4 linked regions of the Homo sapiens genome follow. The protein of the gene in region 1 purifies or fractionates together with the protein of each later gene. This does not show direct contact. Each region holds a gene or a part of one and is shown in the gene's direction. Other genes may lie near its edges.

What was found.
Region 2: the proteins of LIN37 (region 1) and RBL2 purify together in Homo sapiens (affinity purification with western blotting; 5 studies listed by BioGRID and IntAct, with this or other methods). This does not show direct contact.
Region 3: the proteins of LIN37 (region 1) and LIN52 purify together in Homo sapiens (affinity purification with mass spectrometry; 8 studies listed by BioGRID and IntAct, with this or other methods). This does not show direct contact.
Region 4: the proteins of LIN37 (region 1) and LIN54 purify together in Homo sapiens (affinity purification with mass spectrometry; 6 studies listed by BioGRID and IntAct, with this or other methods). This does not show direct contact.

What each region holds. Positions count from the first base shown.
Region 1 is NC_000019.10:35,744,543-35,751,702, forward strand, and holds the start of LIN37 (protein lin-37 homolog), read left to right. Parts: upstream 1-4,033; 5' UTR 4,034-4,182; coding exon 4,183-4,216; intron 4,217-4,271; exon of another isoform or gene 4,272-4,468; intron 4,469-7,160. Other genes in the region: U2AF1L4 (splicing factor U2AF 26 kDa subunit), read right to left, coding at 583-670, 806-849; PSENEN (gamma-secretase subunit PEN-2), read left to right, coding at 1,389-1,449, 1,877-1,981, 2,166-2,305.
Region 2 is NC_000016.10:53,429,370-53,437,470, forward strand, and holds the start of RBL2 (retinoblastoma-like protein 2), read left to right. Parts: upstream 1-5,101; 5' UTR 5,102-5,187; coding exon 5,188-5,427; intron 5,428-6,249; exon of another isoform or gene 6,250-6,357; coding exon of another isoform or gene 6,358-6,375; intron 6,376-8,101. UniProt on the Homo sapiens protein: Key regulator of entry into cell division. Directly involved in heterochromatin formation by maintaining overall chromatin structure and, in particular, that of constitutive heterochromatin by stabilizing histone methylation.
Region 3 is NC_000014.9:74,087,806-74,095,104, forward strand, and holds part of LIN52 (protein lin-52 homolog), read left to right. Parts: intron 1-3,426; coding exon 3,427-3,501; intron 3,502-7,299.
Region 4 is NC_000004.12:82,979,613-82,986,911, reverse strand, and holds part of LIN54 (protein lin-54 homolog), read left to right. Parts: intron 1-2,035; 5' UTR 2,036-2,067; coding exon 2,068-2,751; intron 2,752-7,299. UniProt on the Homo sapiens protein: Component of the DREAM complex, a multiprotein complex that can both act as a transcription activator or repressor depending on the context. In G0 phase, the complex binds to more than 800 promoters and is required for repression of E2F target genes.

The sequences.
Region 1 (7,160 bases):
GGGGTGGGGGCGGGCAGGGTGGAATCAGAGTGTAGCCTACTGGGGGCTGTTCACCTTGCCCCCAGGCCTGGTCCCTTACTCACAGTGTGATCCGTCTGCAGTTTGGGCTGTGTTCTGTGGATTCCGGTACAGGTTGAGCAGCACTATGGTCTGCACAGAATTTAAAAGGGGCGGGGCCTGAGCTCAGAGGGCAGGGCTGCATGAACAGAGAGTGAGGCATGAAGGTTGGGGGTGGAACCTTACACCCCAGCCTAAGCATCATGAGTGCATCGGCGATCCTTTGCCCCTAAGAAACCAGAAAAGGGATGGAGGGGACTGGCAAGGATGAACAGCGGGATGGAAGGGACTGGCAAAGATGAACAGCCGCCGTGTGTAGCCTGTACGCATGGGGGCGCGACCAAGTTCCCGGGAAAACGGCACGAAGACCGGTGGGAGGAGCCTGCAGAAAGGTCCAATGAGAAAAAAAGCCGGGCGGTGGGGAGGGACTCAGGAACCCGGAATAGGCGGGACATGGTGACGACGGCCCCAGAAGGGGAAGGGCCAGGGAGCCGTTAACCCCCGAGGCTCCGTGCCGGGTCTCACCTGGCTGAATGTCGGCTTGTTGTGAAGCCGGGAGCACCGGTCCCCGTGCCGGCAGACCCCGATCTTAAAGTAAAAAGAGCAGTTAACCCTGGAAAAGGTGCAAAGACAAAGGTGAACCGAGGGCCGGGGAAGCTGGGCACCCCAGAAACACCGCCCCACCACCCAGGACCCCAGTACCCCGGCCCCGACCCCCCGAGAGTCCACTCCCAGCGCCCGTTCTCACTTGTCCTTCTCAGTCCCGAATATCGAAGCTAAATATTCAGCCATTTTTACCCAAGCCCTCCAGGTCTGGCTGCTCTTACGTCACTTCCGTTGCTTAGGAGCACTGGGAAGTGTAGTTCGTTGCCCTCTCCAGGCGCTTACCAAGCGCTCGGAAACGCCCCAGGGCGCTTGCGCGTGGGAGGCGCGCGCCCTCCCCATAGACTCCCCGGTAGGAGTTCTTTTAACAGCGCATGCGTGCAGTGTTGCCTCGCCCAAAGAAGACTACAATCTCCAGGGAAACCTGGGGCGTCTCGCGCAAACGTCCATAACTGAAAGTAGCTAAGGCACCCCAGCCGGAGGAAGTGAGCTCTCCTGGTGAGTTGGGGGTCGTTTCGCCCACCCTAGTAAATATAAAGAGCTCTTTAATCCAGCCAGCTTACTAGTGGGGGTGGGGATGCCCTGCTTTCAGCAAACCGACCTTTACATTTATCTCTGATTTGTTCTAATAGGGGCGTGGTTGTTCGTGATCCTTGCATCTGTTACTTAGGGTCAAGGCTTGGGTCTTGCCCCGCAGACCCTTGGGACGACCCGGCCCCAGCGCAGCTATGAACCTGGAGCGAGTGTCCAATGAGGAGAAATTGAACCTGTGCCGGAAGTACTACCTGGGTAAGGCAGATCGCTAGGGTCCCAGGAGAAGAGAGGGGACTGGACTAGAGCACCCGAGGGAAGAGGGCCTCGGGGCCTGGATTCTTAAGTCTAAGAGATGAAGGACCTGCGAACGCCGACTCCTGGATTTGAGTGGGGAGGGCCTGGGTCCTGAGGAATGAGGAAGCTGGGGCCTCAATTTCTGGATCCCAAGAGAGGAGGGGGATTGAGGGCCTGGACTCTTGGGTCCTGTGAAAGAGATGGTTGAGGAATCAGATTCCTGGATCCCAAAGAGGAGCCAGATTCCTGAGTCCCTGACAACAGAAATCTCCATTTGAACTTGGGTGTGGGAGAGTTTCTTCCAAATAGATCTCGGTGGGAGTTGGAGAAGATCTTCATTGCCTTATGAGGTTTTGGGGTTTGTTTGTTTGTTTTTCTTTCTCCCTAGGGGGGTTTGCTTTCCTGCCTTTTCTCTGGTTGGTCAACATCTTCTGGTTCTTCCGAGAGGCCTTCCTTGTCCCAGCCTACACAGAACAGAGCCAAATCAAAGGCTGTGAGTCTAGAGCACAGAGGAGGGAGGCCAGTGGCAGGGGAGAGGGGGAAGCGGGGAATCTTGGTGGGAAGGGACAATGGAGGATCCAAAATGTTGGGGCTCTGGGTGAGAAGGGAAGGCTGGTCTAGGGAAGTCTGGAGAGCAGCCGGAGGCCAACCCTTCCAGCTTCTGTTTCCCATGACAGATGTCTGGCGCTCAGCTGTGGGCTTCCTCTTCTGGGTGATAGTGCTCACCTCCTGGATCACCATCTTCCAGATCTACCGGCCCCGCTGGGGTGCCCTTGGGGACTACCTCTCCTTCACCATACCCCTGGGCACCCCCTGACAACTTCTGCACATACTGGGGCCCTGCTTATTCTCCCAGGACAGGCTCCTTAAAGCAGAGGAGCCTGTCCTGGGAGCCCCTTCTCAAACTCCTAAGACTTGTTTTCATGTCCCACGTTCTCTGCTGACATCCCCCAATAAAGGACCCTAACTTTCGATACTGACTTCCTGGGATCTTTTAGAGGTTGAGGCATAAATGATTATTAATATTTAAAAACATCTGTTGAGAGCTTTGTACGAGGCTTAGTATTTAGACATGATGTACATTTTTTACAGTGCATACTACTCATAATCTTCTGAACTAGGAACTTTCCTGCTCAGGAAACTATTAGATGAGAAACTAAGAAAGGAATAGTGCTTCCATTTCTTTTTCTTTTTTCTTTTTTTTTTTTTTTTTTGAGACAGAGTCTTGCTCTGTCAGCCAGGCTGGAGTGCAGTGGTAGGATCGGCCTAGTGCTTCCATTTCTAGGGGCTGTTATCCTGTACTGGTAGTCGTGAATTCAAAAATATAACTTTCCTACTGTGGGCTGCAGTATTCTCATCAGAAGTGTAGATCACGATGCTACTTCCTGGGATTTATCTGGACCAAGACGTGTGACAAATGGAAGTTTCCCGTTTTCTGAAGGAAGTGTTGTCTGCAAAAATAAAAATAGTCAAGAGCTTTCTCAGAGAATCCTTCCTTGACCATCCATCTTATTTAAAATTCAATCACCACCTTGATATTCCTATGTCCCTTTCAGGCTACACTTTTTTTGTGGGTTTTTTTTTTGGGGGGGGAGAGGGGTTTGTTGTTGTTGTCTGTTTGTTTTTCTAGATGGAGTCTTGCTCTGTCACCCAGGCTGGAGTGCAGAGGTCCGATCTCGGCTCACTGCAACCTCCGCCTCCCGGGTTCAAGCGATTCTCCTGCCTCAAACTCTCGAATAGCTGGGATTACAGGCGCATGCCACCATGCCCGGCTAATTTTTGTATTTTTAGTAAAGACTGGGTTTCACCATGTTGGCCAGGCTGGTCTCGAACTCCTGGTCACAGGTGATCTGCCTGCCTAGGCCTCCCAAAGAGCTGGGATTTACAGGCGTGAGCCACCATGCCCCGCCCAGATCATATTCTTTCTCCTATTACATTTCACTTAAAATTTACTTGTTTACTGTTTATCTTCCCTCCTTTAAAAGATAAGCTCCATTAGCGCAGGGATTTTTGTCTATTCTGTTCCTCAAGGTGTCTCCAATGCCTAGAAGAGTGCCCGACACACTAATAAATATTTGCAAAATGAATGAAGTTGTACCTGCAAAGAGATTAACAGATACCTGGCACCTAGCGAGTGCTCAGTGAGAGGGAACCCAACGTTATTTTACATTAGTCTTCCTCTTAGGGATGAAGGGACCCCAACGGTTGGTTAAATCCGGTAAAGAGCTAACTTGGTGTTGCTCAACCCTTCTCACACTACAAGTCCCGGGAAGCCTCGCGATGCCCTAATCCTTTGTTTCCCACCGTGCCCCGCGCGGCGCAGGCGCTGTTACTCAGGGTGAGTCTGGGAAGCTGGAACTACACCTCCCAGGAAGCTAGGGGGTAGATGGTTTGTTTCCGGAAGCAAAGCCCCAGGTGGGTGGGACCTAAAGCTGGGAGACTACGGAGGCAGCTCTCAATTGGTCAGGATGCGAGATTGACGGCTGCAATAACTAATAGGAACAAGCTACTGCCGAAGGGGCCCGCCCACAGAAGGGTGGTGGCCACGGTCCAGGCTGGACACAACCAAAGGCGGAGGACCCGTGGCCCACGAAGCTCATCTTTGAACTGTCCCCGCCTTCTCCCGCCTTGACTTGTGACCCTAGGCCCTTTGGGGCGCCTCTGACCCAGCTAGCCAGATCCCGGACCCAAACCATGTTCCCTGTGAAGGTGAAAGTGGAGAAATCAGGTGAGGACCCTGACGTCGGGGGCCTGTCGGGACCATCGGGTTGACAGGGTGTGGAGTCCCGGTGGAAGGGAGTATCGCGGAAAGGGGACTGCACGACTTTTCCCTGAAGCCCACCTGACAATCGCTGTATCAGGCAGCGAGCGTTGCCTGCCACCTTCACACCCTCCCGGTGTGCGCTTGAAGTCGCTTTGAGATTGAATGGGGTGGCTCGGGCAATGACGTGCGTGGTAGGACATGGGGAATCCTGAGCCGGTAACTCTGAGAAGGGCCCTTTTCTTTCCTCTTTTTTTTAATTTAAATTTTTAAAATATTTAAATAGAGACGGAGTATCGCTATATTGCCCAGGCTGGTCTCGAACTCCTGGTCTCAAGCGATCCTCCCGCCTTAGCCTCCCAAAGTGCTGAGATTACAGGCGTGAGTCCCCGCGCCCAGCCGAGAAGTTCTCTTTTCTTGGCTTCCCCTCAGTTTCCCCATTTCCAGCAGTGATCAGAGTCACACATCTTGCTGTGAGCCTGAAGTACAGGCACTCTTAATCCTCACAGTCACTATATTCCAGTAATCCTAGAAAATAGGAACTGTGGTCAATGGGTGAAGCTTAGAAAGAGGAGAGAATTTTGGGTTGGGGCGGAGCTGACCGGATCCCAGGCCTGGCATGGTAAGGGCAGTGGGAGGGGTGCAGAATTTAGACAGAAAGATAATAGTAAAATGATGTAGGATGTCCCATGGCAAAAGTGTTATTAAAACAAAGTGGGAGGCTGGGTGCGGTGGCTCACACCTGTAATCCCAACACTTTGGGAGGCCGAGGCTGGCAGATCACTTGAGGTCAGGAGTTTGAGACCAGCCTGGGCAACATAGCGAAACGCTGTCTCTATAAAAAATACAAAAAAAAAAAAAAAATTAGCCAGGTGTGGTGGCACAAGCCTGTAGTCCCAGCTACTCAGGAGGCTGAGGCAGGAGGATCGCTGGAGCCGGGGAGGCGGAGGTTGCAGTGAGCTGAGATCACACCACTGCACTCCAGCCTGGGTGATAGATTGAGACCCTGTCTCAAAAAAAAAAAAAAAGAAAGGAAAAGAAAAGAAAGAAAGAAAAGAGAAGTGGGTGTGACCACAAATGATGGTGAGGGAAGGTGTACACCTGTGAGTGCCAGGCTGAGGAGTGCAGACTCCACCCCTGGGTGCTGTGGAGTCATGGAAGTTTCCAAGCAAGGGAAGATCAGGGTCAGGTTTGTTATTTTTCAGGAAGATTCCCCTGGCTGCCTTGTGGAGGGTGTATCAGAAGGGGGACACTGAGGCAGGGAGCCAAGGGGGAGCAAAGGACAGGACCAGGATGGGTAGAGTAGGGAGGAGGTGGGTGGGAGAGACACTCGGGAGGCCTAGTGGACAGGCCATGGGGTTGGTGGGCTGGGTAGGGGAGGGAGAGGGGTATCCATGGTGAGGTACAGGGAGGGACTTGGGGACAGTGAGGCGACCCTTGAGAGGGAGGCTTCAGGCCCAAGTCGGGGGTTCAGGAGAGAGGCTGGGCCTGAGGAGAGTTGTGGACGTGATCCGTACCCTCTGCATCTGCCCAAGGCTTTGCTGCAATCTCAGCTACTCCCTTCCCCACCCTCACTCTGTCTCTCCTCTGAGCTATGTTTGAATCCCTGTGTCTCCTGGGCTTCTCAGGAAGTCCCTGGACTGGTCAGGCAAGTTCCCAGGTGTCCCCTCCAGGCTCTGAGCACTAGAGCCAGAGCTCCCACCAGTCAGAAAGGCAGAGCAAACACCTCTCAAAGGTAGGAGGACAGCGTAACATCATCACTTCCTCAAGTTCTGTGATGACGGGAGGCAGCCACAGGCTAACTGGGCAGGAAGGTGGGCCTAGATCTCATTTCCCGAGGGGGAAAAAAAAGCCCAAACAGGATGTTTTAGGTGAAATCTCCCAATTTTGGCTGGGTGCGGTGGCTTCTGCCTGTAATCCAGCACTTTGGGAGGCTGAGGCAGGTGGATCATGAGGTCAGGAGTTTGAGATCAGCCTGGTCAATATGGTGAAACCCTGTCTGTACTAAAAATAGAAAAAATTAGTTGACCATGGTGGCACGCGCCTGTAGTCCCAGTTCTTTGGGAGGCTGAGGCAGGAGAATCACTTGTACTCAGGAGGCAGAGGTTGCAGTGAGCCGAGATCACGCCACTGCACTCCAGCCTGGGAGACAGAGCAAGACTCCGTCTCAAAAAAAAGAAAAGAAAGAAATCTCCCAATTTTTAAATGTCAGCTCATTCAGATTGAATTCAGATTTAAAATTATACCACTGTTGGCCGGGCATGGTGGCTCACGCCTGTAAGCACTTTGGGAGCCTGAGGCCAGCAGATCACTGAGGTCAGGAGTTTGAGACCAGCCTGGTCAACGTGGTAAGACCCCATCTCTACTAAAAATACAAAAATTAGCCAGGCGTGGTGGCGGGCGCCTGTAATCCCAGCTATTTGGGAGGCTGAGGCAGGAGAATCACTTGAACCTGGGAGGTGGAGGTTGCAGTGAGCCAAGATTATGCCACTGCATTCCAGCCTGGGTGACAGAGCAAGACTCCGTCTCACAAAACAGAAATACATTAATTAATTAAAATAAAATTATACCACTGCCTCAACCAGATTCTGCACTCAGGTTGAGCCTCTGTCTCATAACTTCAGCTTTGGAACCAGACAGCCTGGGTTCAAATCATCAGCTCTGCAATTTCTTTGCTGTGTGCCTTTGAGCACGTGGCCTAACATCTCTGTGCCTCAGTTTCATCATCTTTAAAATAGGAATAAAAATCATATCTATCTGAGCTGGGCTCTATGGCATGTGCCTATAGCCCCAGCTACTTGGGAGGCTGAGACAGCAGGACCGCTTGAGCCCAGGAGTTCAAAACCGGACAACATCGTGATATCCTTTTTCAAGAAAAAAAAAAATCACATCTACCTCTAAGGGTTATTGT
Region 2 (8,101 bases), on another chromosome or scaffold:
CCCAACTCCACCAGTGTTCCCACTCCCTAGACCCCTCCCCTGCCCAGCAAATTATCCTTAAAAAACCCTGGTCTCCAAATTTTCAGGGAGACTGATTTGAGTCATACAAGTCCGGTCTCCTGTTTAGCTGGCTGTGAGTGTATTAAACTCTTTCTCTAATGCAATTCCCCTATCTTGATAAATCTACTCAGTCTGGGCAGCAGGCCAGAAAAACTCACTGGACAGTTACAATTTCAACTCCTAGCATCTTGCTCAAGAACTAAGACAGAATCAGTTAACCTCCACGATCAAAAATGGCTGTGACTTAAAATCTCTTTCTTTGAAGGAACGTTAATGTCAAACATCATTTTTTTGTCCCACAGATTTCAGTTGGGCAGGGCTCAGTGGGAAGGTTCATCTCTGTTGTATACAACATCAGCTAGGACAATTTGACTGAAGGCTGGAGGATCTGCTTCGGCTTCCAAACTGGCTTATTCAACACAGCTGAGGGCCAGAGGCCTTGGGTCCTATCCACATGGTGATAACTGCAGAATTCTTGGCACATAAAGGCTCCTTCCAAACCTCTGCACTTAAGAGATGACCATATCTCATGAGCAAAAGAAAAGAGAGAGAGAGAGAGGATCAAATTTTTGCATTGCTTCTGGGAGCTTAGGGTCAATTCTCTGGAATGATCCTGGGCTCCCTGCCCCCACCCTCCCATTGAAATCATCAGGAAGAATAGGGGTTCTGTCTTCCAGTCTGTGTAGGGGACAGTAGCCTGACTTTGATAGTTGCTGGCTAGTAGACACAACTAGCCTAATGACATTAACATTGACCCACCTTTTGTAATTTTTTACTCAAGCTCTGCTCTCTCCCCCTCCTCCTTTACTCTTTCTTTAAAAGGCCAAGTCACATCTAAAAAAGTTGGAATGAAGCTCAGCTCTTTCCCTGCTGTCTGTCAGTAGTTACTCAGTAAAATCCGTTTTTCACACTTTAACTAATGTTCGGCTTTGTTTATCTTTGACAATAGGTGACCTGGTCTTTCCCACAGTATGTTGGCTGGGTACAAAGAGTGAATGAAGAATGACTGAGAGAATGAGAGACAGAGAGAGCACATGTGCCAGTCAGGTGAAAGACCTCTTGCATTTTATGACTAAGCTTCATAAGTCAAATAATAACCTCAAGGAAATTTAACTTCTCCATATCAGAGGCATCCAAACCAGAGTGACTCCATCTTGAGTGATGGCTAGGAAAAATGGGGCTGGGACTGGCTGGGCTGCATTCCTAGAAAGTTAGGTATTCCTAGCCCCTAGATGTTTATAGTTAAGGGAACACATTGATAACATTTACTAAACAGACCCAGACTTAGGAGTGTCCTGATATCCCGATATCTTGAGAACAGAAGCATTCCTAATTTTGCTTTAAAGATAATATCAATTCTTGCAAAATATAGTAATTAGGAAGATTAATCCTTTATCACAAACCCTTGTGGCAGAGCACATCTCCTCATGATCTTTCTAAATCCTATTTATAAACAAGTATTGTACCTAGGGTGGATGCATTCCTCCTCCTACTTTCGGGAACGTCCTACTCTCTATGGAGTAACTGTTCTCTCATCACTTTACTTTCTTAATAAACTTTCTTTTGCTTTGCACTGTGGACTCGCCCTGAATTCTTTCTTACATGAGATCCAAGAACCCTCTCTTGGGGTCTGGATCGGGACTCCTTTCAGGTAACACTCACACCCCCATTCCACCCCACCCCCATCCCAAAAGGCTTTGAAAACATTGGTATTAACAAGCAAAGGATATTTTAATAAATACATATTTGATGGTTTATTGCCACCAATTTTGCTTACATTGCAATAATTATTTAAATTACATTAACTTTTACTAAAAATAGTAAAGATAATTTCACATCGTTTGTTTAAGTTAAACAGTTTGAAGTTAAACTTTAATTGTTAAAACAATTTAAGTTTTTCTCTTAGTTGCTAAAAGAAAAACTTTGGACAAGTTAACAGTTTAAGCAAACAACAATTCATGAATTGGGCACCACTTAAAACAAGAAGATATTCAGAGCGCTTCTGCAGGTGAGCAGTAAGCTTTAATAGAAAAGTAAAACAGTTACTTGATTGGCTACAGCTGGGTGTTTGCCTTATTTGGGTGTGAGGGCTGGGCCCGGTGGCTCATGCCTGTAATCCCAGCACTTTGGAAGGCCGAGGTGGTTGGATCATTTGAGGTCAGGAGTTCAAGACCAGCCTGGCCAATGTGCTTAAACCCCGTCTCTACTAAAAATACAAAAATTAGCCGGTGTGGTGGTTGGCTCCTGTAATCCCAGCCACTCTGGAGGCTGAGGCAGGAGAATCGCTTGAACCTGGGAGGCAGAGGTTGCAGTAAGCCGAGATTGCATCATTGCACTCCAGCCTGCGTGACAAGGCAAGACTCTGTCACCAAAAAAAAAAAAAAAAAAAAAAAAGGAAAATCCCTAATTAGAGGCTAGTTGGCAGTTTCTGATTGGTTAAGCTTATGTTTTGTTTTACTGTTGTCTTACTGTTTACACTGAATTCTGGTTTGCTTACATATAAGCTCCAGCTACAGAGACAGATGATATCAGGCTCATGGCCTCTTTATTTGCTTTGACATAGTAAAGTGTTGATAATGATTTCCAAAGGAAGAAATATCATTATTTTAAAATCAATATTCCCAGTGTATATACAGGTAAAATACTAAGATTTTAATACACTTATTATTTATTAATTTATTTATTTATTGAGATGGAGTTGCTCTGTCGCCCAGGCTGGAGTGCAGTGGCATGATCCCAGCTAACTGCAGTCTTTGCCTCCTGGGTTCCAGCAATTCTCCTGCCTCAGCCTCCTGAGTAGCTGGGATTACTGGCACCAGCCACCACTCCTGGCTAATTTTTTGTATTTTTAGTAGAAATGGGGTTTCACAATGTTTGCCAGGCTGGTCTTAAACTCCTAACCTTAAGTGATCTGCCCGCCTTGGCCTCCCAAAGTGTAGGGATTACAGGCGTGAGCCACCGCGCCTTGCCAAATTATTTATTATTATTTTTTTGAGACAGGGTCTCTGTTGCCCAAGCTGTAGTGGCATGGTCACAGTTCACTGCAGACTCCCCAGGCTTAGGCGTTCCTCCCACCTCAGTCTCCCAAGTAGCTAGGATTACAGGCGTGTACCACCACTCTGGGTTAATTTTTCTATTTTTTGTAGAGACAGGGTTTCACTATGTCGCCCAGGCTGGTCTCGAACTCCTGTACTCAAGCAGTCCTCCCACCTTGACCTCCCAAAGTGCTGGATTTACAGGTGTGATCCACAACGTCCAGCCTATATACTTAAGATACTTCTAAACCATTTGTGTTCAACTTCTGTTCTTGCCCCATAGTCACCTTGAGACTCATCACTTAGCCAACTCCAAAAGCATTGCTGATTACTGTGAATTTTACTAAGGTTTTCTTAAGAGGGTTCCATTGTCTCAAAATTGTTCCTGAAATATCCTGTTACCTGTCTACCTGATTTTCTCCTATCTTCAGAGTTCCATTTCCTGTCCTCCCGCCTGTCATTATACCTTCCATAAGCCCCTACTTTTGTCCCAGCACTTTTCCCTCTGTCAGTTTACATATCCCACCAAGCAAAACAAAAATAGCAAAACAGTAATGCCTTCTGAATCCTCAAATTGCTCAATCCTCAGATTGCTCCTCAATCTGGAAAATGTTTTATATCAAGCCCATTTATAAATCAAGGATTGGCAATTTAAAAAATTAAAATAAAGAAAGGAGAATTGGAAATAAAATGAATTGGCTGGGCACGGTGGCTCACGCCTGTAATCCCAGAACTTTGGGAGGCCGAGGTGGGTGGATCACTTGAGGTCAGGAGTTCGAGACCAGCCTGGCCAACATGGTGAAACCCTGCCTGTACTGAAAATACAAAAATTAGCTGGGTGCGGTGGCGCACACCTGTAATCCCAGATACTCAGGAGGCTGAGGCAGGAGAATCGCTTGAACCCAGGAGGCGGAGGTTGCAGTGAGCCGAGATCGTGCCACTACACTCCAGCCTGGGCAACAGAGCCAGACTCTGTCTCAAAAAAAAAAAAAAAGTTTAATTCACGCAGAGCCAGCTGAACGGCAGACAGGAGTTTGGTTATTCAAATCAGCCTACCAGAAAATTCGGAGACTGGGGTTTTTAAAGAATGACTTGGCGGGTAGGGGGCCAGGGATTGGCGAATGCTAATTTGTCAGGTGGGAGGTGAAATCACAGGGGGTTGAAGTGGGCTCTTGCTGTCTTCTGTTACTGAGTGGAATTGCAGAACTTGTTGAGCCAGATTATGGTCTGAGTGGCGCCAGCTAGTGCATCGGAATGCGCGGTCTGAAAAGTATCTCCAGCACCAATCTTAGGTTTTACAATAGTGATGTTATCCCTGAGAGCAATTGGGGAGGTCAGGAATCTTATAGCCTCTGGCTGCAAGCCTCCTAAATCATAATTTCTAATCTTGTGGCTAATTTGTTAGTTCTACAAAGGCAGACTGATCCCCAGGCAAGAATGGGGTTTGTTTTTGGAAAGGACTGTTACAATCTTTGTTTCAAAGTGAAATTAGAAATTAAATTCCTCCTGTAGTTAGTTAGGTCTTCGCCCAGGAATGAACAAGGGCAGCTCGGAAGTGAGAAGCGTGGAGTCATTTAGGTCAGATCCCTTGCACTGTCATAACTTTCTCACTGTTAGGATTTTTGCAAAGGCAGTTTCGTGAACGTACAGAGACAGGCCCTTGCTATTATCCCTATTTTTTAGATAAGGATATCCAGGCGATGAGGAAGTTTTACTTCTGGGAACAGCCTGGATACGAAACCTTCACACGTCAGTGTCTTTTGGACATTTTCTCGTCAGTACAGCCCTGTTGAATGTTCTCACGGTGGGGAGGTACGTGTTTAAAATGCGGGGAAGGTGCTTTTATTTCACCCCTGGTGAAACTAGGGGAGCTAATTTTTTTAAACATGATTTTTGGCCCCCTTGAACCGCCGGCCTGGACTACGTTTCCCAGCAGCCCGTGCTCAAGACTACGGGTGCCTGCAGGCGGTCAGCGTCGTTTGCGGCGGCGCAGGCGCGGTGCGGGCGGCGGACGGGCGGGCGCTTCGCCGTTTGAATGGCTGCGGGCCCGGGCCCTCACCTCACCTGAGGTCCGGCCGCCCAGGGGTGCGCTATGCCGTCGGGAGGTGACCAGTCGCCACCGCCCCCGCCTCCCCCTCCGGCGGCGGCAGCCTCGGATGAGGAGGAGGAGGACGACGGCGAGGCGGAAGACGCCGCGCCGCCTGCCGAGTCGCCCACCCCTCAGATCCAGCAGCGGTTCGACGAGCTGTGCAGCCGCCTCAACATGGACGAGGCGGCGCGGGCCGAGGCCTGGGACAGCTACCGCAGCATGAGCGAAAGCTACACGCTGGAGGTGCGCTCGCGGGCGGAGGGGCGCTTCCGGCCTAGTTGGCGTGAACCGGTGCCTTCCGAGCCGCGTCGCGCGCCTCGAGAGACTCTCGGGCGGGTTGCGGGCTCCCAGCCCCGAGAGGGGTGGGGACTTCCTCTGCGCTATTCCGAGGCTCTTAGCCGCTCCGAGGGCTAACCCGCTCTCGCCGCGCTTTCCTGCGGCTTCCGAATGGGGAACGCGTCTTGCCCTAAAGTAGCACAGCAAGGCTGAGATCGCGCTGGGGTCCCGTTGAGGAAAATGGGTGTGTGTGGCCCATCTGACCCCCCGCCCGCCTTGTTAGTAGAATGAACTAGTGTCGTTGTCAAGACCACACGGACAAGGGGAGGGGACTTGCCCTTATTTGCACCGCGATTAACCGGGTTGTGGCACCTGGGTCTCCAGGCGTCTCCGTCTGTTCGCTTCCCCCTGTTAACCAAATTGCCTTTGCCCTGGCGTTGCGGGCGTTTGAGTCAACGTGCTGATGCGTTTTGGGCTGTGTTTACGTCTGTGTAAACAAATTAATACTCATTTCCCCCCAGGCCAGATGAAATGAGCCCTCCGCCGACCCGGATGTAGACACATGCCCCCATTTGTCACTAGGATCAGGACTGTGGCTACCTCGAGGGCTTTTTGGTCACCCCGGGCATTGCACAGGACTCCTGTTGTTGTTGCGATCCGGGTGTGTTAGGTCGCAGCCTTCGGACAGGGCTTGCAGATGAGAAAAATGGCCATTCTAGCCAGTGAGTGTCAGCTTTGTATGCACCTCCCCTTCATGGGCCAATGGGAAGTGACACGGAAGTACGGATTGTTTATCAGCTGTTTGACTGTGTGTGTGGCATTTAAACCTGAGGCCATTTGATTTCTCAAGTCGTTTTATAATTAATTTGTAGAAAGAGTCGGGCAAATAGGTCCAGGATGCAAAGCCTAACCAAGGTATTATTTAAATATGATGTTTTTGGCTATGTGTACTGATGAGTGAGGTTATTTTTAATTTGTATTTGCATTAATAGAATTTTAATTCAATTACTAGTTCCCTCTTTGAATTGTTAGGTCTGCAGAAGATAGTGTATGGTGGCTTTAGAACCCGACAGACCTGAAACCGCTGGAAAAGTTCAGTATGGTGATCTCTAAACTGGAGATATTTGTGTTTACCTCACAGAGCTGTTCTGAAGATTAAATAAGGCAATAATGTAGTTTCTGGCACATAAAGCACCCATATGGACAGTGTTTTCAAGTTTACTAAGCTCTTTGTATATTTACATGATCTGGCTGAGTAAGCTATGTTCCTATTCATCTCTCAGTGCCTTTCTGTAGTCTGGCAAAGAGAAGGACTGGTTGGCTTTTTATGTTGTTTTTTGTTTTTTGGGTTTTTTTTTGGTAAATGGCCTTAAAGGCTTCCAAACAAGCTCTTATTTTACCCTCAAGATAATCCTGTAAATCAGATAGAACAAGCATTATCGCCATTTATTTGAGGTATTTCAACTCATAGCAGTTAAGTTGTATGAAGTCTAGTGATACATGAGCAAGTATCACGTAATAGCTGGTTAGTAAATTATTTTTGAAAACATGTTTGATTACTCAATTCTTTTGATTACTGAGACTTTAGTTTCAGCTTCTTAGCCCAGTTTATTCAGTAAATGATTTACTCAGTAAAATATTCATCAAATATTTCTTGAGCACCTATTACTTGCTACACATTGTTCTAGGTGCTGGATATAGAGCAGCAAACCTGCTCTTGTGGGGCTTACAGTGAGGTACGCTGTGACAATATGGGATGTCATTCTCATGGGAGTGCAAGGGAAAATAAAGCTCTTATGATGTTTAATACAGAATACTGGTTATGGAATTTTAACTTGATTTCTTGTATTTTCTGTGCATTTTTAACCTGTAACTCATTCTCACAGTCCTCAGCCAAGAAAATGCAGCCTCTGAGACTGTTAAGTAATTTCCCCACTGTGTTATAGCTACTGTATGGCAGAGCCGGAATTTGAAACCAGATCTATTTGACCCTAGAAGATGTGACCATGAGATGTTAATTTTGAGGATAACTTTTTTAGTATTATGGAATTTTCAACATATATTTTTTAGGACCAAAGATAAACTAGGCACAGAGTCTACTCTTTGCATAAATTATTTAAAAGAGCTTCGCGCTCCATTTTGTCATCTAAGCACTGTAAAATTCTCACAAGACTAATTCTTCTTTTTAGGAACGATATAGTTGTAAACTTTCTATTTTTTTTCTTTTTTTTTTTCTCCCTCCACCATCCAAGTAGTTGTGAATTTTCTAGAGCCAAAATAGAACATTATAGATTATCTTTTAAACCCTTTATTGAAGCAGAGGATAATGCTGTGACCGACTTAACTTTATGCTTTCTAAGAGATATTGATATAGTAGAGAAATGCAGTAGTTATGCATCTAAATTTGCTTTTACATCATAAATCAAGAATATTATGAAACCATCTCCCAGAGATATATGTGATACACAGATCTTGGCTGTTTTTTTTTTTTTTACAAAAGAACATCTATGCTATTGATACATATAAGTGGGTTTGTAAGACAGTCTATGTGTAAATGTGAAAAAAGGAAGAATTTCCAGTTCTTCTCATTTTCATTTAGACCAGTAATGAATACATTGAAGCTAAAGGACATCTTCCATCC
Region 3 (7,299 bases), on another chromosome or scaffold:
ATTACTTAATTTATGAGAGTAAGACTCACAGCAGAGTCTGAGTTCTATCCCAGACTGTGGTATCATAAGGTCACCCATGTAGGTTATTAGATTGTACCCCCAATAATTTTTTTTTAACTTTCTTTTAGAGACAGGGTCTCTCTCACTCTATTGCCCATGCTGAAATGCAGTGATATGATTATAGCTCACTGCACCCTCAAAGGCTCAAGCGATTCTCCCATCTCAGCCTCCTAAGTAGCTGGTACTATAGGCTCACACCACCATGCCCAGCTAATTTATTATTATTATTATTTATTTTGTTTTGAGACGGAGTCTCACTCTGTCACCCAGGCTGGAGTGCTGTGGCATGATCTCGGGTCACTGCAACCTCCGCCTCCTGGGTTCAAGTAATTCTCATGCATCAGCCTCTCCAGTAGCTGGGATAACAGGCACACGCCACCACACCTGGCTAATTTTTGTATTTTGAGTAGAGACGGGGTTTCACCATGTTGCCCAGGCTAGTCTTGAACTCCTGACCTCAGGTGATGCACTCACCTCGGCCTCCCAAAGTGCTAGGATTACAGGCGTGAGCCACCATGCCCCCACCTTATTATTTTTTGTAGAGATGGAGTCTCACTATGTTGCCCAGGATGGTCTCAAACTCCTGGGCTCAAGCAATCTTCCTGCCTCGGCTTCCCAAAGCACTGGGATTCCAGACATGAGCCACTGTACCTGGCCCAATAACTTTACTTTTGTTATGGTTGAACATTCCTCAGAAATCGGTAACAAAGAGAAGCTAATTTTTGGATGCTTTAATTAAGGCAATGTATTAGTTGAGTTCTTTACAATTAAAATGCCATTGGAAATTCCTTTGGAATATTTGGCAAAACAAATTCAGTTTAGAGAAAAGTACATTTTGTACGTATGTATATTTTCTGGGGAGTGAGTTCATTTTATTTCCCAGATTTCCAGAGATGTGGTTACCCAGAAAATGTTAAGAACTGCTGTTTATAGCATTAAATGAACTAGTTATGCAACTGGTTAGCATACTGAGCATACAATAAAAACTCAACAAATGTTAATATTGAGTACTACTGTGTGCAAGGGAAGAGTGGAAGAGAAATGATGTCAAAGAATTAGGTAGAGGCTGAGTAAGATTTTATAGAGTGTGGTAGATACACATTCACAGATTTAGCTGGGAGGAACTTTAAGCTGGAGAGAGACACGAACTGATTGACGTTTAAAAAAATCAATTCTGGCCTCTTTATGGAGAATAGATTCCGGGGGTGTGAAGGGGAAAGGGTAAGAATGGGAGCAGAGAGATCTGTTAAGAGGCTGTTGAAGTAGTCCAAGAAAGAAGTGATGGTTCCTTGGGTTATTTGATTTCAGGGTGTATTCTGAAGGTAGAAACGACTAGATTTACTCATGGATTGGTTATGGAAGGGTGAAGGAAAAGAATGCATGAAGGATGACATCTGGGTTTTTGATCTGAGAATTGGAATTTATGGTAGTGTTATTTCTTGAGATGGGAGAAGATTGGGGGAATATGGTTTTGAAGATAATTAGGTTTAAAGTTTAAGTGGGGATTTTTTTTTTTTTTTTGAGACAGGATGTGGCTCTATCACCCAGGCTGGAGTGCAGTGGTGTGACCTTAGCTAACTGCAGCTGCCACCTCTGGGCTCAAGCCATCCTTCCACCTCAGCCTCCCAAGTAGCTGGGACTACAGGCTGACACCACCACACCTGGCTAATTTTTTTGCTTTTTGTAGAGATGGGTTTTCACTATGTTGGCCAGGCTGGTCTCAAACTCGTGAGCTCAAGCAATCCACCCACCTCGGCCTCCCAAAACTGCTGGGATTACAGGCGTGCACCACTGCATCTGGCCTTAAGCAGTTTTTTTATATGTAAATAGAGAGGGATTCAAATAACCACTTGGACATAAACCTTTGTAGTTCTTTAGAAAGGTTGGGAATGGAAATATAAATATGGAGTCATTGGCATACAGATGAAGATAAAAGTCCTCATGTTGAAATAGGGGAGTTCCCTAACCGCAGGACATACGACAGGGGTGTGGCTTGTCTGTGTGCACTCAATCCTCTTATGGGAGAGGGAGCACGCAGATGGGCAGGTGTAGGAGTCAGGGCGAGCACTTTTGGGCTCCAGCCCCACGGTAGCATCTAGGGGTGGGTGCCTGTGACTCCCAAAGCCCAAGTGGGCATGTATAACAGTGCACTCTTTTTTTTTTTTTTTTTTGAGATGGAGTCTTGCTTTGTTGCCCAGGCTGGAGTGCAGTGGTGTGATCTTGGCTCACTGCAACCTCCACCTCCCAGGTTCAAACGATTCTCCTGCCTCATCCTCCCCAGTAACTAGGATTACAGGTGTGTTCCCCCATGCCTGACCAATTTTTGTATTTTTAGTAGAGACAGGGTTTCACTATGTTGGCCAGGCTGGTCTTGAACTCCGGACCTCAAGTGATCCACCCATCTTGGCCTCCCAAAGTGCTGGGATTATAGGCATGAGGCACCCCACCTGCCCTGGTGTTTTTTGTTTGTTTGTTTGTTTGTTTTTTTGAGATGGCGTCTCATTCTGTTGCCTGGGCTGGAGTACAGTGGTGCAATCTTGGCTCACTGTAACCTCTGCCTCCCGGGTTTAAGCAATTCTCCTCCCTCAGCCTCCTGAGTAGCTGGGATTACAGGCGCCTGCTACCACACCCAGCTAATTTTTTGTATTTTTAGTAGAGACAGGGTTTCACCACGTTGGCCAGGCTGGTCTCAAACTCCTGACCTTGTGATTCACCCGTGTTGGCCTCCCAAAGTGCTGGGATTACAGGCATGAGCCACCATGTCCGGCTGGGGTTTTTTTTTGAAACACAGAAATTCTGCAACCAGCTTGATTGGTACTGCTCCTTTTTAAAGAGATTTTTAAAGAGTTACTTATTTTGTAAAGTTTTATTTATTTTGAAGCTAGTCAAATTTAGCAGTGGGGGGTTGTGTACAAACTTTAGTGACACTGAGATGAGGCTAGAGAAGGTAGAAACTGATGGTACCTGAGAAAGATGATATGCAAATGATGTCCTTGATAAAGCAAGAGAAGATGGCATCTAGAGTGCTATCAGAAGAGTCTGTTTCATGGAAGGAGAAACACTTAATTCATTGTAACTGGAGGAAAGCACAAGAGTATGAATGAAGATGCAGGTGGGTTCATTGATACTCATTTTTCTTAACACTCCCAATAAAATATCATTCCCATTCATAGATTGAAAGAGTGAGGTTTGGTAAGGGAGAATGATTTATTTGTATTCTATCACGGACCAGTGGCATCAATAGTTACAGAACTCATATCTCTAGACTTCCAGGTGAGTGTTCCAGTTTATGTCCTTTGAGATTGAAGTATCATATACATTAATGTGTTTCCTGTCTTCTTGGTTCATCTGGATGTTTTGTTCTAGGGACAGATCTGGAAGCATCTTTGCTAAGTTTTGAAAAACTTGACCGTGCCTCACCAGATCTTTGGCCAGAACAATGTAAGTTTTTGCCTTCTTTATATCAGAGTCAATGCAGGAGAAACAATGTTCCTTTTTAAAGAGATTTTTAAAGAGTTATTTATTTTGTAAATTTTTATTTATTTTGAAGCTAGTCAAATTTAGCAGTGGGGGGTTGTATACAAACTTTAGTGACACTAACGTTAATAAGTTCTGATAACAGGCTGAGCTTGTTGGCTCATGCCTGTAATCCCAGCACTTTGGGAGGCCGAGTTGGGAGGATCACCTGAGGTCAGGAGTTTGAGACCAGCGTGGCCAACATGGTGAAACCCTGTCTCTACTAAAAAAAAAATAGAAATATTAGCTGGATGTGGTGGCACACACCTGTAATCCCAGCTACTCAGGAGGCTGAGGCATGAGAATCTTTTGAACCCAGGAGGCGGAGGCTGCAGTGAGCAGAGATTGTGCCACTGCACTTCAGCCTGTGTGACAGGGTGAGACTCTGTCTCAAAAAAAAAAAAAAAAAAAAAAAAGTTCTGATAACCCATTACCATCAGACCAGGCTGAAGAGTTATCATTTAACTTTAATGATTAAAGTTTTATTTTATTTCAAAGAGAAGAGATTGAAGTCCAGTGTTAAGAATAGCTGTTTGGTGGTTTAATTTGTTCAGAACACAGTGTGACTCAGAAAATAAGGAGCCATTAAACAATAATAATTATTTTGTTTGAACCAGAGTCTCTCTCTGTCGCCCAGGGTGGAGTGCAGTGGTGCACTCGGGTCACTGCATCCTCTGCCTCAGGGTTCAAGCGATTGTCCTGCCTCAGCCTCCCAAGTAGCTGGGACTACAGGTGCATGCCACCATGCCCGGCTAATTTTTTGTATTTTTAGTAGAGACAGGGTTTCACCATGTTGGCCAGGCTGGTCTCGAACTCCTGACCTCAGGTGATCCACCTGCCTCAGCGTCCCAAAGTGCTGGGATTACAGGTGTGAGCCACCGTGCCTAGCCAACAATAATTATTATTATTATATATATGTATATATATATATATGTTTTTTTTAGACGGAGTTTCGCTCTAGTTGCCCAGGCTGGAGTGCAATTGCTCAGTGTTGGCTCACTGCAACCTCTGCCTCCCAGGTTCAAGCGATTCTCCTGCCTCGGCTCCCGAGTAGCTGGGATTACAGGCACATGCCGCAATGCCCGGCTAATTTTTTGTATTTTTAGTAGAGACAGGGTTTTGCCATGTTGGCCAGGCTGGTCTCAAACTCCTGATCTCAGGTGATCCACCCACCTCGGCCTCCCAGAGTGCTGGGATTACAGGCGTGAGCCACCATGGCTGGCCATTAATTACTTTTTAAAACTACATTTATAGGCTGGGCATGGTGGTTCATGCCTGTAGTCCCAGCACTTTGGGAGGCCAATGCGGGTGGATCACTTGAGGCTAGGAGTTTGAGACCAGCCTCGCCAACATGGCGAAACCCTGTCTCTATCAAAAATACAAAAATTAACTGGCCGTGGTGGTGCACACCTGCTATCCCAGCTACTCAGGAGGCTAAGGCACGAGAATTGCCTGAACCCGGGAGGCGGAGGTTGCAGTGAGCCAAGATTGCACTATTGCACTCGAGCCTGGGCAACAGAGAAAGACTCTTTCTCAAAAAAATCCCCCAAACTACACTTATTTGTTTGTTTGTGTATTTATTTATTTGAGATGGAGTCTTGCTCATGTCGCTCAGGCTGGAGTGCAATGGTGCAATCTCGGCTCACTGCAACGTCCGCCTCCCTGGTTCAAGCGATGCTCCTGCCTCAGCCTCCCGAGTAGCTGAGATTATAGGTGCCCGCCACAATGCTCAGCTAATTTTTGTATTTGTAGTACAGACGGCTTTTCACCAAGTAGGTTGGTCTTGAACTCCTGACCTCAGGTGATCCGCCCACCTCGGCCTCCCAAAGTGCCGAAATTTCAGGAGTGAGCCACCACAGCCAGCCCCCAAAACTACATTTATAAGAAATTCACATAATACTGAGATATATAAAGCGTTTTCTCACCTTTTTCAATCACTCTTTTTTTTTTTTTTTTTTTTGAGATGGAGTTTCACTCTTGTTCCCCAGGCTGTGCAGTATAATGGTGCAGTCTTGGCTCACAGCAACCTCTGCTTCCGGGTTCAAGCAATTCTCCTGCCTCAGCCCCCCAAGTAGCTGGGATCACAGGTGCATGCCACCACACCTGGCTAATTTTTGTATTTATAGTAGAGAAGAGGCTTCACCATGTTGGACAGGCTGGTCTTGAACTCCAGACCTCAGATGATCTGCCTGCCTCAGCCTCCCAAAGTGCTAGTATTAGAGGCCTGAACCACTGCACCTGGCCCACTCTTATAACGTTAACCACTGTTAATCGTACAAATCCTTGTAAAAGGTACAACTCCGGCCAGGTGTGATGGCTCACGCCTGTAATCCAAGCACTTTGAGAGGCCGAGGTGGGCGGATTACCTGAAGTCAGGAGTTTGAGATCAGCCTAGCTAACATGGCGAAACCCCGTTTCTACTAAAAATACAAAAAATTAGCTGAGCGTGGTGGCACATGCCTGTAATCCCAGCTACTTGGGAGGCTGAGGCAGGAGAATCGCTTGAACCCGGGAGGCAGAGGTTGCAGTGAGCAGAGATTGCAGTGAGCTGAGATCACTCCATTGCACTCCAGGTTGAGCAACAAGAGTGAAACTCTGTCTCAAAAAAAAAAAAAAAGGTACAAATCCTTTTGACCTATTTTATACAGATAAGGAAATAATAATTTTTTAAGTATGTATAAGAGGGATTTTTTTTTTCTTCATAATGTTGGAGTCATATGCATGTGGCCTGCCACTTAACTTACTCCACATGTGAACAGTTCCATCTTGGTATGTGTATGTCTACTTCATTCTTTTAAATATATTTCATTGTATGGATATATTATAGTTTATGTATTCATACATTATTTGGAAACTTAAGTTATATCTACTTTGTAGTTTTTTTTTTTTTTTAATTTGAGCAAGGGTCTCACTCTGTCACCCAGGCTTTGTGCAGTGGCGTGATCACAGCTGACTGCAGCCTCAACCTCCTGGGCTCAAGTGATCCTCTCACTTCAGCCTCCTGAGTAGCTGGGACCACAGGCATGTACCACCACAACCAGCTATTTAAAAAATTTTGGGGGGGACAAGATCTCACTGTGTTGCCCAGACTGGTCTCAGACTCCTGGGCTCAGGCTGTCTTTCCACCTTGGCCTCCCAGAGCACTGGGATTACAGGTGTGAGGCACTGTGCCTGGCCTATATCTAGTTTTTGACTTTACAGACAGTTTATCAGTGAATACCCATGTACACATATCTTCATATACATGGAAGAGGATAACTGTATGAGGGCCCCTTTCCTCACATACTAGCCAGTATTAGATGTTACTAATCTATTAGTTTCATTTTACATTTCCTTTTTGGTGAGATTGAACTTTTTTTTTTTTGAGATGGAGTCTCGCTCTGTTGCCCAGGTTGGAGTGCAATGGCGTGATCTCAGCTCACTGCAACCTCCACCTCCCGGGTTCAAGCAATTCTCCTGCCTCAGCCTCCTGAATAGCTGGGACTACAGGCACATGCCGCCACACCCAGCTAATCTTTTGTATTTTAGTAGAGACGGGGTTTCACTGTGTTGCCCAGGCTGGTCTCCAACTCCTGAGCTCAGGCAAAGATGTTATTTTAATTATATATTTTTTTTAGAGACAGAGGCTCATCCTATCACCCAGGCTAAAGTGCAATGTCACGATGATAGCTTACTGCAGCCTCCAACTCCTGAGTTCAAGCCATCCTCCTGCCTCAGCCTCCT
Region 4 (7,299 bases), on another chromosome or scaffold:
GCCTCATCTATAAAACAGGGATAATGATGATTCCCATTTCTGAGTTGTTGTGAGGATAAATTAAATTACGTCATCAGTGTTGTAAGCACTCAATAATGATGGTTTATTTTGGTGGTAGTAGTATTTGCCAATGCTAATAGTTGTAATTTGCTACTTGTGTGTTAATTTTGGATGGGTGTTGTATCTTTTTTTTTTTTTTTTTTTTTTTTGAGATGGGGTCTCGCTCTGTCGCCCGGCTCAAGTGCAGTGGCACGATCTCGGCTCATTGCAACCTCTGCCTCCCAGGTTCAAGTGATTCTTCTGCCTCAGCCTCCTGAGTAGCTGGGACTATAGGTGCATGCCACCATGCCCAGCTAATTTTTGTATTTTTAGTTGAGACGGGGTTTCACCATGTTGGCCAGGATCGTCTCCATCTCTTGACCTTGTGATCTGCCTACCTCGTGATCTGCCAGAATGCCCAGCCGGGGTGGTGTATTTTTATATTTAAAAAAAGGGGGCCGGGCATGGTGGCTCACACCTATAATCCCAGCACTTTGGGAGGCCAGCGTGGGCAGATCACCTGAGGTTGGGAGTTTGAGACCAGCCTGACCAACATGGAGAAACCTTGTCTCTACTAAAAATACAAAAAATTAGCTGGGCGTGGTGGCACATGCCTGTAATCCCAGCTACTTGGGAGGCTGAGGCAGGAGAATCGCTTGAACCTGGGAGGTGGAGGTTGCGGTGAGCCGAGATTGCGCCACTGCACTCCAGCCTGGGTAACAAGAGCGAGACTCTGTCTCAAAAACGAAAAGGAAGAGAAGAAAGTTGCTGATTTGGTTCCTATGGATCTTTGATGTTCTCTGGGCAAATAACTCACTGCTATTTAGTCTGTCATAAACATGATGTGCTGTCTTTTATACATGAAGATAATAAAATTGATTCCTTTATTGGAAGTTCTACAGACCTTTGGCTAAAAGTACCACAGCTCAAAGTTTTTCGTAATCTGCTTTATGATTATTACTTTTTTTCTTCATGGGGATTGGCTGTACATCTCTTAAATGGTTCTTTTTGACACTTTAAATGGCGGAGGATGGCCAGGCACGGTGGCTCACGCCTGTAATCCCAGTACTTTGGGAGGCCGAGGCAGGTGGATCACCCGAGGTTAGGAGTTCGAGACCAGCCTGGCCAACATGGCAAAACCCTGTCTCTACTAAAAGTACAAAAATTAGCCCGGCTTGGTGGCAGGCGCCTGTAATTCCAGCTACTCAGGAGGCTGAGGCAGGAGAATTGCTTGAACCCAGGAAGCGGAGGTTGCAGTGAGCTGAGATTGTGCCACTGCACTTCAGCCTTGGCAACAGAGTGAGACTCCGTCTCAATAATTAATTAATTAAGTAAGTAAGTAAATGGCCAAGGAGGGTTTGAGAATCTTCTTTCCAAATAAAAATTTCCCTGGTATGAAGCTAGTTGGTCAAAGTTGTACCACAAATGCTATTTGATCTGCAATTGCTGAGATGTATTACTCTAGAAACTCCTTTAACTTTAATTTGGGTATTTAATGGATTTTTAAAATGGGATAGTACACTCATATTAGGACGTAGCTCATTGGAGATTTGAATGTATTTTACAATATGTTAATATTTAAATCTTTATTTCCTTGTGTGAATCAGCAGTTTTCAAGTCTGTCAATGAGAGGAAAAAAATCTGGGTAGAAATAAGATCAGATACATCAAAGATTACAAATTTTATTAGAGGGCGTTGGAAAGGAGTTTCATGTGATTATGTGACTTAGTGTTGCCTGAGTGCAAGATACTTGTGGATTGAGACGAGAGTAAGAATGTTTGCTTCTAGTTTTGTGTTCCCATATGACTTATATTATAGATTCTTGCAGGTTGAGGATGTGTTAACATGATTTAACCCAGATAAGCTTCAGGAATATTCTTCATTCAATTATATATCAATTTAAAAATTGTCATTTTGCCATTTGCATTTTTTTTGAATTTTTTTCTTACATCTTTTGAAACCTAGTAACTTGTTCATTTTTCAACTTTTATTACAGTGCCTGATCAACTTTCTAGCGGGAGAACGATCATGGAGGTGGTGCCAGCTGAGGTGAATAGTTTGCTTCCAGAGGAAATAATGGACACTGGTATAACTTTAGTGGATGATGATAGTATTGAGGCTGTTATTGTTTCATCCCCAATTCCCATGGAGACAGAACTGGAAGAAATTGTCAACATAAATTCTACTGGTGACTCTACAGCCACGCCCATTTCCACGGAACCAATCACAGTGTACAGTAACCACACTAACCAAGTTGCAGTGAATACCACAATTACTAAAGCAGATTCTAATACCACAGTGAAACCAGCTTTTCCAAGTGGCCTTCAAAAACTTGGTGCTCAGACTCCTGTGACTATATCAGCCAATCAGATTATTTTAAACAAAGTATCACAGACATCTGATCTTAAACTTGGCAATCAGACCCTTAAACCAGATGGACAGAAGTTAATTTTAACAACTTTGGGCAAGTCTGGTTCACCAATTGTTTTAGCACTACCCCATAGCCAACTACCCCAGGCTCAGAAAGTTACAACTCAGGCCCAGTCAGGAGATGCTAAGTTACCACCGCAGCAAATTAAAGTAGTTACCATTGGAGGGAGGCCAGAGGTGAAACCTGTCATTGGTGTCTCAGCATTGACCCCAGGAAGTCAACTGATTAATACTACAACTCAGCCCTCTGTGTTACAGACCCAACAGTTAAAAACAGTACAGGTAAAAGAAAAAAGGGGGCTTACTAATTAAAATGCATGTTTAAAAAAATTTAACTGATTCATAGTTGTGTTTATAGGGTTACTAAATACATAGTTGTTACTGAATTCTTTTGAATGTTGTTTTATGTAATTGTGTGTGTGTGTTTTTAAGTTTGATATGTCTAATGCTTATGAAAATTTTTACCAGATAACTTAGAAAGCAAACTTAATTTTGGTTAAATTCCAAATTAGTATATTTATAGCCTTTTACTAATTTTAAAATGCATTTTATTCTTAGTGGTAGTTTGATTACAAGGATGTTTTGCTGGTATAAATATGCCAGACTTGCTGCTGGGCTATCAAAAAAATCATGTAGACAACATTTTTTTTTTTCAGTTCACAGATGGCCAAAGGCTAGGAGAACTTTGTTGCTCTGAGAAACCCTCAGAGCCAGTAATAGTGCGTGTCAGCCAGCGTGTGCCTTTTATTTGGAGTTTACTGTTCATTGCCATTATTCATGTTTGTACTATGGAAAAGACAGTGACATGTGATGGAAGATAACATACAGGCTTTAGAGTTGTACCAACTGGGCTTGAGTTGCCTCTATCTTATCCTACCAGTTATGGAAAACTTTCGTAGGTTACTTATCTTCTCTGAGTTTTTGACTTTATCTTAAGAATACTTTTTGATCAAGATGAAATGTGTAGTATAATTCTCAAAATATTGAGGATGTTTCATAATGGTACCTATTATTAGTATGAATAGGACCCTAAGAAAGAAGGTTACTGGAATATATATTAAGTGATTTCCAGTTTATCATGCCCAAATAGGCTTTCTTAGGCCACCACTACTCTTGGAAATGCAGTGATCGGCGGGGCGTGGTGGCTTAAGCCTGTAATCCCACCCAGCACTTTGGCAGGCTGAGGTGGGCGGATCACCTGAGGTCAGGAGTTTGAGACTAGCCTGCCCAACATGGTGAAACCTCATCTCTACTAAAAATACAAAAAATTAGCCAGGCATGGTGGCGAGTGCCTATAATCCCAGCTACTCAGGAGGCTGAGACAGGAGAATCGGTTGAACCCGGGAGGCAGAGGTTGCAGTGAGCCGAGATCGCGCCATTGCACTCCAGCCTGGGTGACAAGAGCGAAACTCCATCTCAAAAAAAAAAAAAAAAACAAGAAATGCAGTGATATACTTATGACCAGGAAACAAAAATGTATCCTCTGTTTGAAAGAGTTGTCTTTGAATGCATAGAAATAATAGGAAATGCATAAGAAGGAAGTAGGAAGGTTTTGGGAGACTACACTCAGCTGATATTAGAGTAATGTTTTGGTTACTGTTTTGACAGTAGAATTAGAAACCACTTTTCATGGGCTTTGCATTTAAGAACTTTGTAGAATTTCTTAAATCTTATAATTTGCCTCTGTCCCCTTTGCCATTATTAAACATTTAGTGCTCTTTCTTGTTCATTATTACTTCTCACTTATCTATGACTTCCTTTTACTTCTTATTTTTGCCAAGAATCTCTTGGATGAGATATCTTATCACCATCAAGCATCTTGTCCTCAGTTTTGAAGCTTGTTTTTATTGGTTTACCAAAGTTTATTTGGCTTTGGCAATATGGATCATAATTATGTTCAAAAGAAACTGATGCCAGGTGTGGTGGCTCACGAACCTGTAAGCCCAACACTTTGGGAGGCCAAGGTGGGCAGATTCTGTGAGGCCAGGAGTTCGAGACCAGCCTGGGCAACATAGTGAAACCCTGTTTCTACCAAAAATACAAAAAATTAGCCCAGCATGGTGGCGCACACTTGCGGTCCCAGGTACTCAGGAGGCTGAGGTGAGAGGGTCGCTTGAGCCGGGGAGGTCTAGGCTGCTGTGAGCTGTGGTCGCATCACTGCACCTCAGCCTGGGCTACAGGAAAACCCTGTCTCAAAAAAATAAAAATAAACTAAAAAAGGAAAAGATATCATAAATTAGAATGTCATTTTTTTCATTTATGAGAGCAAGGTATATGTGACATTTCAATGACCAGTGTTGCTTGTATCTATTATTTCTCTACTTTAACTCCCTAAGTAATGACAATAAAAAAAAGACTGGGGTCTAATTCTTATAACTTGTTTTATTGTTACTTTTCTGTTTTGTTTTGTTTTGTTTTTGAGACAGGTCTCTCTGTCACCCAGTCTGGAGTGCAGTGGGTGCTCCACTGCAGCCTTGACCCCCCAAGCTCAAATGCTCCTCCCACGTCAGCCTCCCAAGTAGCTGGGACTACAGATGCAAACCACCACACCTGGCCAATTTTTGTATTTTTTTTGTAGAGATGGGGCTTTGCCATGTAGCCCAGGCTGGTCTCAAACTCCTGGACACAAGCAATCCACCTGCCTTGGCCTCTCAAAAGTGCTGGGATTACAAGCATAAGCCACTGCACCTGGGCTATTGTTAGTTTTCTAAAGCCTGTTTCTATCTAATAAAAAAGAATTCTATTAAAAAAAACAATAAAAAGGAATTAGATTTAGAATTTTTTTTACTTGTACAATCCATTATTTTTAGGCGACTTAAGTCTTTCCATCTCAGAAGTAACCTCAAAGCTCTGAAGCACAAAAGACAAATTAAAAACTATGCATCTATATTTTTTCCTTTTTTGACACCAGAATATTTGGTTTAGTATTACAAAGAGTATATGATTTTCTGGTTTTTTTCCCCCTAGGTAGTTGTCAGTGTTAAGTTTAGTCAGAGTATTGAGACTGTTAGGGTATAGATAGCAGGCAACGGTGGAAGATGGAGGCCATCTTGAAAAATGAAGAAAAGAGGTGACCTTTGAAGCCAGAGGCAGTAACAGAGGTATAATTATATGTAATAACAGATATATAAACACTTTCCCATGTTTCCTGTGCATAGTATATAAGAGTAGTACATAACTAGCAGTCTGGAACAATATAACTCCTTACTAGCTCCTGAATCTATCCAACACAGTGCCAAAAATTACTTGTATATATTATTTGATGACATATTTTACTACCTTATTTGTAAGTTTTTTTTCATGTTTATCTTAAGCTGCTGATTCTATAAACTTGTTAAAGTAATCTTTGATGCTTTGTTTTACTTAATAATTTTGTTCCAGGATACTTTAGAATTCATAGTGCAAAAAAATCATAGTTCCTTAATGGAACCAAAAGTTATTATTTTCAGCACCACTAAAGAAACATAACCACAAGGGCAAGATGAGATTGTTTATTTGAATAATTAATGTGCTTCTGGTTGTACTGTTTATATTTTTTTCTTACTGATAAGTATTCATATACTCATGATTGTGAAAAATCAGTTTAAAATGGGGAAATACTTTAAGCCCATAATTGTTATAGCTAAGGTTATTTATTGCTAATATGGCTTTCTAAGAATATTAATACTTCTACCTCTAGAGATTGTTAATATTATAGATACAATAGATACAATTTTGACTGACTTTAGGGTTTTAAGTCTGTAAACATACTTGAGAAATTTGTATTTCTCTAAATTTCATTAGCTTTCTAGAGTATAATTATAGATTTATTTGAGTATGTTATAGTTTTGCAAGTCGGCCGTTTTTAAATACAATAATGGGTATGTTTTTTTTTAAGTGATTTGTATTTTATATACAGTTGGTTTTTGTCAGTAATGTGCTCTGAGTATAAAAAAGTAATATATTGTAGGTGTAAGATGTGTTATTTAGTTTAATTTATAATTTGAGCACAAAGAGCTAATATTTGTCTAGTTCTGTGATCTATCATAACTTCCGGTGTATTTCTGTTATTCATGTTGGTCATATTTTTTCATTTGAGTCACTATTTCCTATAATAAATAGTTCTTTTACAGTCTCAATTTTCATTGCCAAAAGATATAATTAATATTTAATGTTCTTCACACTCTAAAATTCTTTGATTTTTATCCCAGGTAAATTTCTTCTTTTAACTTTTAGAAGAAGCTGTGTCTTTGTATATGGTGATAATCGCAATATAAAAAATTGGTAACTCTACACTCCTTGACTTGTGGAGAATTATAATTCAGGTCAACAGTGTGCCAATATGTAACTTCAAATTGGAGATGAATTAAATATAGTTTCTCTCTTCAAGGAATTTAAAATATAATAAACAGTTGCTGTAGCCCAGGAGTTTGAGGCTGCAGTGAACTATGAGTGCACCACTGCACTCCAGTCTGGGTGACGAGATGAGACCCAGTATTTTTTTTTTTTTTTTTTTTTTTTTTTGAGACAGAGTCTCACTCACTCTGTCACCCAGGCTGGAGTGCAGTGGTGCAATCTCGACTCCCTGCAACCTCTGCTCCCGGGTTCAAGCAATTCTCCTGCCTCAGCCTCCCGAGTAGCTAAGATTATAGGTGTGCGCCACCACACCCTGCTTATTTTTGTATTTTTGTAGAGACAGGGTTTCACCATGTTGGCCAGGCTGGTCTTGAACTCCTGACCTCAAGTGTCTGCCTGCTTCAGCCTCCCAGAGTGCTGGGATTACAGGCGTGAGCCACTGCGCCTGGCCAGGACCCCATCTTTAAAAGAAGAAAAGTGTAGTACATAATAGTT